2 separate regions of the Homo sapiens genome follow, and region 1 is linked to region 2. Evidence: fine-mapped expression QTL. A gene starts in region 2. The other region holds a variant in brackets. All regions are shown on one strand. Distances are from middle to middle. Region 1 has its middle 120 kb from the start of EPM2A-DT. Region 2 holds the start of FBXO30 (F-box protein 30).

Region 1 (5,385 bases), 200 kb after region 2:
AAAAAATTAAACCTATAACTTCCATTTAATTCAGCAGTCTCACTTCTGGGTATATATCCAAAGTAAATAAAATCAGTATCTTGAAGAAATTTCTGCACTTCCATGTTCATTGCAGCATTATTTGTGATAGTCAAGTATGGTAACTAAGTATCCAATGACAGATGAATGAATAAAGACAATGTGGTGGATATATAAACAGTGGAATATTATTCAGCCTTAAACAGAAGGAAATCTCATCATTTGCAACAACAGCGTTAAAACTTGAGGACCTTGTGCTAAGTAAAATAAGCCAGGCACAGAAAGACAAATACTTCATAATCTCATTTATATGTGGAATCTTTAAAAAGCCAAATTCATGTAACAGTGAATAAAATGGTAGTTACCAGGGGCTGAGAAGTTGGAGGAAAGAGGAGATGTTGGTCAAATGGTACAAACCTTTAGTTTTAAGATGAATAAGTCCTGGAGACCTAATTAATTACAACATGATGATGACAATAATAATGTATTGTATACTTGAAATTTGCTAAGAACACAGTAGATCACAAGTGTCCTCACCATAAAAAAGGGAGGTATATGAGATAATGGATATGTTAATTAGCTTGATTGTGGTAATCATTTCCCAATGTATGTATAATTGTACACCCTAAATAATACAATATTTGACAGTTATACCTCAATAAGGCTGAAAAAATTGCTGTTATTTAAAAACTGAACAATATGCAATTACTATTAAATGAACTAGTATGGCACCAGAATGGTGTGGATTATAAAGGAGAAAATTAGCAGAAACTAGACAGTGAAAGAATGGAGAGCTGGACCTTGAACAGAACAGGTCATTGTCATTACCATACTTATCAAGACTTTATCAATTTCTAGTGAGAGAAAACTCAGAATTCACTGAATAGAATTTACTGTTCGCTGTATATAAAATGGTTAAAAGTGGAATTATATATTTTTATTTGATAGAAATCCTTATTGCTGCCTTCTTAATATTAAATGACTAATCTAAAGATGGAAATAAGGCCTAAACCAGTGGTCTCCAACCCCTGTGGCTCAGTTCCTAACAGGCCACAGTAGTGGTCCATGGCCTGTTAGGAACCGGGCCACACAGCAGGAAGTGAGTGGCAGGTCAGTGAGCTTTACTGCCTGAGCTCTGCCTCCTGTCAGATCAGCAGCGGCATCAGATTGTCAGCGGATTGTGAACTGTATTGTGAACTGCACATGCGAGGGATCTAGGTTGCACGCTCCTTATGAGAATCTATCTAATGCACGATGATCTGAGGTGGAACAGTGTCATCCCAAAACCATACTCCCCTCGCCTCCCTGTCCATGGAAAAAATGTCTTTCACAAAACTGGTCCCTGGTTCCAAAAAGGTTGGGGACCACTGGTCTAAACAATTTCAGAGATTTTACACCCATAGTGGATAAACAAAGTGAGTATCCCTCATTCTTTATAGACTGGTGTTTAAACGATGCTAATTACTGCTCAGCACCTCATATGTTTCAGGGGCTTAAGCCATGTTTATATGTTAGGATTTCTGATAATATTTAGACCTGTTTGCATTTGTTCATTTTTTTATTTCAAAAATGTTTTGACCTTTTCTATGTGTCTCTTCTTGCTTTTTATTTTTTATAATTATGTCTTCCTCCTTACAACGGAGAACTTTAACACTGACTTATGCTCACTGGTATTTATACTTCCTTCATGTTGACATGATTACAACTATAATTATGAGTTGTTTTAGATATACTTCCTCTTTTTCTTTTTGTGTTCTTAAATTTTTTTTTTAATTGTGAGGAAGGCAAAAAAGAAATGTTGGTGGGGACATAATCTTCATTGCCGGACAGACCTATGATTACCACTCCACCCCATTTCTAGCTTTCTTAACTATCCTAGATTCCATTACTACTGAGAATTTAAGCCCAGTTACTCTCAAGGTTCCAGTGAGCTTATGAGTGCCCAGCTCTCCTGCAGTACTGCATCCCCTCATAAGGTATTCTGAGTCACATCTTCCTTTGCTTTCCATCAGCTCACTTCCAAAATCATTCTATCATCCTGAGCTATCTTATCTGCTAGTAATCCTTCTTAACTGCCTCTTCATTGTTGCAGGTGAATTTCTGTCTTCAGATTTTATATTGTAATTTCCATTCAGATGTCAGGAGGAGTAGTGTGTTTGCCAGTTTAAACCAGAATTTTCTCAATCATCGTCTATAGTAATGATATCCAAATCTCAATCCCCATTCCACTGCTTTCTTCTGAGTACAAGGCTTATATATCAATTTGTTTCAAAACATCTT[T/A]CAGAATATCTCCCAAACTCAATATTCCCCAATTTTTTTTTTTTGCCAGACCTCCCATACTTTCTCTGTTGAGCAGACACTGGCAACATCTTCCCCTAATTTCCCAAGTTAGAAACTTGAATGCCATCTTTGCCATCTCTCCTCCATTTACCACCCTCCTAACCATTTGACAAATTACTTTCATTATGCTTCCTAAATATCTCTTAAATATAACTACTCCCCTCTGTCCACGCTGACCTGGATTGTTAAAGCTTCCTGGCTTATCTTCCTCTTGTAATCCTTACCCCTTTCAAGATCATTCTTGACACTGCTGCCTGAGAGACCTTTCTACTTCAAATATACTACTGTCTCTTTCTTGCTCAATATTCCTCAATGGCTCCTCGTTTTTCTCAGAAAAAAGTAAAAAATCCTTAACGTGACATTGTATTAGTCTGTTCTCACACTGCTAATAAAGACATACCTGAGACTGGGTAATTTATAAAGGAAAGAGGTTTAATTGACTCACAGTTTAGCATGGCCTGGGAGGCCTAAGGAAACTTATGATCATCGCAGAAGGAGAAGCAAACACCACCTTCTTCACATAGCAGCAGGAAGGAGAAGTGCTGAGCAAAAGGGGGAAAAGCCTTGTATCAAACCATCAGATCTCATGAGAACTCACTATCATGAGAACAACATGAGGATGACCACTGCCATGATTAAATTACCTCCCACTGGGTTTCTCCCATGACACATGGGGATTATGGGAACTACAATTCAAGATGAGATTTGGGTGGGGACACAACCAAACCATATCAGACATATGAGGGTCTTTACGATTTGTACTGTGTCCTTCTCTCCAATCTCTGTTGTCATTCTTATAACCATCTCCCAAAAGTGCTTGTTAGCCACAGTGAATTGCTTAAAGGTTCAACAATCTTTTGTATCCTTGGGGTTTTGCACATATTTTTTCCTCTGCCTGGAATCCTCTTCCCTCCTATCTATATCTGGTGAGCATCAACTCATCCTTTGGGTCTTTGAAGACACCCTCTCTGAGGCATCTTCATGAGTCCTCAAGGGTGCTTCTTCCAGGCATTTTCATAGAACCCCTCTTAATGTGCTGTACTATAACATGAGCTATAACATCATTAGGTAGAAACTGTAAACAGTGCTTGGCAAACAGGCTTTGGCCCATTCTATGACAGTTAAGCCAGGTACTCTTTGGATTCTGTGTTCAGATCTAATGTGTATTTTATTATGTTTTTTAATTAAAAAAATTTTTTTTGAGACAGGATCTTGCTTTGTCATCCAGGTTGGAGTACAGTGGTGCGATAACAGCTCATTGCAGCCTCTACCTTCCTGGGCTCAAGTGAGCCTCCCACCTCAGCTTCTTGAGTATCTGGGACTACCGGTGTTTGCCATCATACTAGGCTAATTTTTAAAAGTTTGTTCTAAAGATGGGGGTCTCACTATGTCACCCAGGCTGGTCTCAAACTCCTGGGATTAAGTGACACTCCTGCCTTGGTCTCCCAAAGTGTTGGCATTACAGGCATGAGCCACAGCACCAGGCCAGATCTAATGTATATTTCAATCTAAGAGAAATGTGAAGAAAATATTAAATGAGAACTTTAGTTTCCTGTAAGTCAATGAATGGGGTAATTTATTCAATGAAAGTACTATCAGTATCTTCATTTTGTGCCTTATTTTGTTTTAAGCATTTTAATAACGATTTCTCTTTCTATATAATACTAGTATTTAGTTATATTAAAGCAGAGTAACATCCTATAAAATATTGTGTTTTTAGCCTATCCTCTTTGTATTAGTCTGTGTTCATGCTGCTGATAAAGACATAATTGAGACTCGGTTATTTACACAGGAGGAAGGGATTTAATGGACTTACAGTTCCATGTGGCTGGGAAGGCCTCATAATCATGCTGGAAGGTGAACGGCACATCTCATATGGTAGCAGACAAGAGAAGAAGAAAACTTGTGCAGGGAAACTCCCCTTTTTAAAATCATCAGATCTTGTGAGACTTATTCACTATCATGAAGACAGCACAGAAAAGACCTGCCCCCATGATTCAGTTACCTCCTATTGGGTTCCTTCCACAACATGTGGCAATTCAAGATGAAATTTGGGTAGGGACACAGCCAATCCATATCATTCCACCCCTGACCCCTCCCAAATCTCACATCCTTATATTTCAAAACCAATGATGCCCTCCCAGCAGTCACCCAAAGTCTCAACTCATTTCAGCATTAACTCAAAAGTCCACAGTCCAAAGTCTCATCTGACACCAGGCAAGTTCCTTCCACCTATGAGCCTGTAAAATCAAAAGCAAGTTACTTCCTAGATACAATGGGGGTGCAGGCATTGGGTAAATACAATCATTCCAAATAGGAGACATTGGCCAAATCAAAGGGGCTACAGGCCCCATGCAAGTTCGATACCCAGTGGGACAGTCAAATCTTAAAATTCCAAAATGATCTCCTTTGACTCCATGTCTCATGTCCAGGTCACGCTGATGCAAGAGGTGGGTTCCCATGGCCTTGGGCAGCTCCACCCCTGTGGCTTTGCAGGGTATAGCCCCCCTGCTGGCTGCTTTCATGGGCTGGCATTGAGTATCTGTAGCTTTTCCAGGCACACAGTGCAAGCTGTCAGTGGATCTACCATTCTGGGGTCTGGAGGACTGTGGCCCTCTTCTCACAGCTCCACTAGGCAGTGCCCCAGTAGGGACTCTGAGTAGGTGCTCTGACCCCACATTTCCCTTCCTCGCTGCCCTAGCAGAGGTTCTCCATGAGAGCCCTGCCCCTGCAGCACACCTCTACCTGGGCATCCAAGCATTTCCATGCATCTTCTTAAATCTAGGCAGAGGTTCCCAAACCCCTATTCTTGACTTCTGTGCACTGGCAGGCTCAACACCACGTGGAAGCTGCCAAGGCTTGAGGCTTGCTCGCTCTGAAGCCATGGCCTGAGCTCTATGTTGGCCCCTTTCAGCCATGGCTGGAACAGCTGGGATGCAGGGCATCACATTTCTAGGCTGCACATAGCATGGGGATCCTGGGCCTGGCCCATGAAACCACTTTTTCATCCTAGGCCTCTGGGCCTGT
Region 2 (5,362 bases):
GTAGAGAAAAGAAGGAAACAAATCAGGCTACAATGAAAGATTTACTTTGAGCAACTGCAGACAGGAGTTGAGACTGTATCTCATGGGCTCTAGATAGCCATCTGCTATGGTCTGAATGGTTTTGTCCCCTTCTCAAAAATTCATGTTGAAACTTAACCCCAATGCAACAGTGTTGGAAAGTATGGCCTTTGGGAGGTGACTGAGTTTTAAGAGCTCTGCCCTAATGAATGGGATTAGATGCCCTTATAAGAGGGCTGGGCAAAGGGAATTTGACTTTTGTCCCTTCAACTTCTGCTATAAGGACAGAGCTTTCCTCCTCTCCAGAGGAAGAGGTGTTCAAGGTGCTATCTTAGAAGCACAGATGGGATGTTTACCAGACAACCAAATCTGCCCATGCCTTGATCTTGAACTTCCCAGCCTCCAGAATTGTGAGAAAATAAATTTTTCTTCTTTATAATTATAGTTTCTTGTAATTTATAATTACCCAGTCTGTAATATTTTGTTATAGCAGCATAAACAGACTGTGACAGTTAATACTGAGTGTCAACTTGATTGGCTTGAAGGATGTAAAGTATTGATCATAGGTGTGTCTGTGAGGGTGCTGCCAAAGGAGATTAACATTTGAGTCAGTGGGCTGGGAAAGGCAGACCCACCCTTAATCTAGGTGGGCACCATCTAATCAGCTGCCAGTACAGTTAGGATATAAAGCAGGCAGAAAAACATGAAAAGGCTAGACTGGCCTAGCCTCCCAGCCTACATCTTTCTCCTATGCTGGATGCTTTCTGCCCTTGAACATCAGACTCCAAGTTCTTCAGTTTTGGAACTCAAACTGGCTCTCCTTGTTCCTCAGCTTGCAGATGGCCTATTGTGGGACCTTGTGATCGTGTGAGTTAATACTTAATAAACTCCCTTTTATGTGTATCTATCCTATTAGTTCTGTCCCTCTAGAGAACCCTAATACACATACTAAAACATCATCCCAGCCAGGTGAATATAAAAATAACAAGATAAAATGGGTGTCTTAGGAAGAATTGTGTTGATAGGGGATTTGAGATAGGAGATACTGCAGGAGAAAGGACTGGTTAGGCAACAGCAGACATCCAAATTTGTTTAAGACAGTAATGTTAAAAAAAAAAAAAAAAACTTCAGCCAAATTAAATTTAAAGGAGTTTGAGCAACGAACAATTCACGCATCAGGCAGCCTCCTGAGCCAGAGTAGGCTTTGAGACTCCAGCGCAGCCACATGGTGGAAGATGATTTAGGACAGAAGAAGGAAAGCGACATACAGAAAACGGAACTGAGGTACAGAAACAGCTGGATTGGTTACAGGTTGGGGTTTGCCTTATTTGAACAAGGTTCGAACAACTGGCTACATTTGATTGGCCAAACTCAATGATTGACAGAAGTGTGGGCTATGGTCTGTTTACTCCTCCACTTATTATAGTTCACGGTGTACACAGAAACCTTTAGGCTGAACGTAAAATATGTAAGGAGGCTGCTTTAGGCTAAACTTGATTTAACAGTAACTAGGGATGAAGGTGAAAGAAAAAAAGGATTTTAAATAATTGTCTGGACATGGAAAATTATTGAGATGAAGGGACAAAGAAGACAATGAGGTTTCCAACCTGAATGACTCAACTTCAGGCGAGTGAGGGTGACCTAGTGTCAGCTAGGTGACTTAGTAAAAGGTAAAGCCCCAGATCTCAATAAGTATAATTAGAGATTCACAGAATTTTAAAGCTGGAAAGGGCTCTAGAGATAATCTATTTTAGATCCTTTATAAGAGGACAGCTAAAGCAAAACAAAGGTCTGTGACTCAATCCAGGACAGTGAGCATTGAGCGGGGCTATAGTGTAGCAGCACCTACATCCTCTCCCACTGGGCCATCCTGCCTGTTTCCCCATCCTGACCATGTAGCTCTCTGGACAGTGGCTCTCAAGGTCTGAACCGAGGACCAGAGCCTGTCTACAGCCAAATCAGGCAAAATAAGGGGAACAGATAATTTTTCAAAAAGTTAATCATTTAAGGAATCAACCTTTACTCTGTAATCTAAGTTCCTAACTCAGTTTTTGTTTTGTTTTGTTTAATTTACGGATCTGAAAAACCCACAGGCTTTCTCTGTAGGATAGCAAATTATGTGTGAGCTCTCTTTCCCAAAGCACAACAGCAAGGGGTAAAGATGCAGCCACAAAAAGGATGACAACAGTGTTTTCCTGGCTCTGCCCCCATCCCCACTGCCAGGATTACAACCATCTTTCCTTTGTTGTAATTCTCTTGCGACGGGGTGGGCAGGAGTCCCCGACAGAGGGGTGGGGGCGGGTGAGCGGCTCCCAACACCCAGAGCTCGGAATCACTGTCCCTCGGCCGTAGACCAAGGCTTGGTGGTGGTAGCGGGGGCGTGGACATCCATCCATTCTTTGATACAGCCCTGTGGGATTTCTTTACTCCCCAGTCATATGTAAGGTACACTGCAAAAGCGGCTTCAAGTCCCCTCCCCAGCTAATTACCTTCGCGGAATGACGCCTCGGCCCCTCACAGAAGCAGACCCTGGTGGGCTGTCCCGTCCGGGCTCCAGAGAGGCTCCGCCGCCCGCCGGGATCCAGGGCTGAGCTCTCCCGGGGGGAGGTAAAACCCGACAGGGGATAACGGGTCACAGCACCGTCCTGGCACTAAGTCACGGGACTTGGGCACGCTGAGTTAGCCGGCGGGAAGGCCTGTGGCGGCAATCACCAAAGGTCGAGCAAGGGCGCACCCATTTCCTCCAAAAATGAGCTAAAGGGAAAGCAGTGCCCCAGAGTCAAGGGATCGGGGCTGCTGCTCCTTCGACTAGCGGCGCGAACAAGTCATGCTACTTGGGCCTGTTTCCTCAACTGTAAAATGAGGGGTCTAGGATTCCCTCTGGGAATGTACGATTCTAAAATCGAACAGGGTTTGGTAGCACCGCCGGGGCGGAGCCTTACGGGGCGCCGCGGGAATCCAACGACAGGACTCGCCACAGTGGGAGCTCTCTCCAGACCCTACTCTAGCCACGACGCTGCGGGGTCAGAGGGCGGCGTGCGCGTCCCCGCCGGGACTGCGTGCGCGTCCCCGCCCAGCTGTCGGCAGAAGCCGGGCCGGGTGGGCGGGGCGCAGCGGGGCGGGGCGCGCGAGGAGGGTGGCTGCCTCTGGAGCAGGCCGGGAGAAGAGAAAAGGCGGCGGCCCGGCTGGGGAAGAGGGGCGGAGGAGGCGGTTCGGACGGCTGTGTGGGGTACGGAGCGTCGCCGGGACAGAGCGGAGCAGCTGGGCACGGCGTCCAGGGCAGCTAGGGCCTGGGCCGCGGTTCGGCCGCGCCGGCCGGTGAGTGACGGGAGGCCCGCAGGGGAGGCCGGCGCCGTCCGCGCTGCGGCGGGGACGAAGGCAGCGGCCGGGCAGTTTGAGGCCGCGGCCGGGACCGAGGCGCTGGCGCTGGCGGCCGTGGGGTTGACGGGCCCGGCCTGGAGCAGAGGAAAGGCGGCTGACCCCGGTCCATGCGCGTCCCGGGTCGGCCGTCCGGGCGCCCTGAGAGGGCGTCCGCCGCGCTCGTGTCCTCGCCGGGCCGCATGCCGGGCCAGCCGTTGAGGTCAGCAAATGGCGACTTAAGCCTCGAGGGCACCGACCTCCGTGTCCCCCCCAGTTTGTGTGTCTTTGTATTGGGAAGGGACGAAGGAGGAGTTAAACTTAGGGAACCCTAAGCTTCTCGTTCCGTCTGGTTTTTAGAAACTTGGGTTATTTGGGGACAAATGGCTTAAAGTAAGACTGGGGAGGCATCATCCACTGTCTGCACGGGATGAGCAAAGTTGGTAACTTTGCCATTCATGGAAGTGAGAGGATCTTAGCCTTAGCCTCGGTCCTTATTAAAGGGGAACTTCCTTATTTTGCAGACCTGAGGTTATTTGTGTTGTTCCAAGACCTGCGCCTTGGAACTCCTTTGCTTGGAAGGGGTTTATAGAGCGCGTGCTGAATTCAAAGTAATCTGCCAGTATGTTTTTAACGGGTATATTTGGGAGTATAGAGGCAAAGAGGCAAAACAGTATGTGTTTACCAATGTCCTAGTACTCCATTTCCCTCTCCCTTTCTCTTGTTTTTCTTATTGAGCCCTGTTGTAAGTCCCAGATAAAAGATGCTTGGGAACGAATTGACCTTTTATTCCATGATTACTTCGTTGACTCTGATCCAAGATGAAGTTATTTATGGGCATTCTGATATCGGTGTAGATTAATTTAAAATCTTTTAATACAAAATCCCAAACTTTTTAAATTTTAATTTCCATTTGCTAAATTTCAATACTGTTTGTTCTTTAGAGACCTATGGAAATTATATTAACAGGTTTTGCATTTGCTCATACTAAGGTTTTCCAAAGCAGTCCAATTGTTGACATGGCAAAAGGAAAAGAGTAGCATAAAATAAACCTTTAGGATTTTTCAGAGGGTTAGATTTCAATATGCGGTTTCCGCTGAATCACTCTTCTTCATGCTTAGTCACTGTTTCTCATCACAAAAGTTTAATTGGGGATAACATGGTGTTTTGCTGACTTTTTAAATTGCCAATTTGTTTTTACCTAGCACTTTAATGCCGTGACGTAACTTTTTTTTTTTTTTTTAATTCTGGAAATGGTGGAGTTTCGTGAATGCTGTAAGAGAACTGAAGTTTCGAATATAGGCAAACTTTAATGTATACCAAGTGTACTAGGTATTTAATTTCAATCCAGTATTTCTCCCGGTCTAGCATTGGGAGACTTCTTCTAAAAAGTGTCCTAATATATCATTAAAAAGCAATATTATATAAGTAATGCTAACGTGTATAGAGAGGTACTTTAAGGTCACCAAAATAGGCATTGGTTAATGCTTACTGTTTGATATAACATGTTTCTAAGATGTGAATATTTTAATGGATAAGCGCTATGCTATTCTGTATGATTTTGGATAAATATTTTAATTCAGTTCCTAAGACTGCTTATTTGATAGAAGGAGTTAGTACATATTATGGAATGTCATTGTATTTGTAGAATTTTTTGACATAAAACAATTGAGTCAAAGGCTGTATAAAATATAAATTCAAATTCAGTGTGATGAAATAGAGGAGATTGGCCTTAGACAAGTTGCTTCTATATTTTAGGTAGCTAGATGTTAGATACAGACAAGCGGATCAGTTAAAACCCAGTCTGTGAAAATCTTTTTTTTAAAGAATGAGTAATGTTATTACTAGGTAGTTCTTCATATGATTGCATTTAATTAATGATCTCATAAAAATAATTACACGTAAAATTTTTGTGTATATAAGTGTGGCTGTTGTGCAAATCGAAGTACATCTGGTTTCTGAGAACTACATGTTTATATCCTATTGG

The links. PIP is the estimated chance that this variant, and not a neighbour inherited with it, causes the effect.
Region 1: its variant is the best candidate, but not a certain one, in a credible set for the expression of FBXO30 in whole blood (INTERVAL, PIP 0.51).

What each region holds. Positions count from the first base shown.
Region 1 is chr6:145,616,117-145,621,501 of GRCh38, reverse strand. It overlaps a transcript of EPM2A not described here. Among named protein-coding and RNA genes, the nearest start is that of EPM2A-DT, 120 kb to the left of the region's middle. The variant T/A (reference allele first, on the strand shown) is at 2,299.
Region 2 is chr6:145,812,577-145,817,938 of GRCh38, reverse strand. It overlaps FBXO30 (F-box protein 30), which reads left to right and starts at 3,144. Exons shown (of 3, transcript NM_032145.5): 1 at 3,144-3,336. All of the region lies in intron 1 of EPM2A-DT (EPM2A divergent transcript), which reads right to left. RefSeq lists enhancers at 2,054-2,123, 3,181-3,735 and a silencer at 2,964-3,503.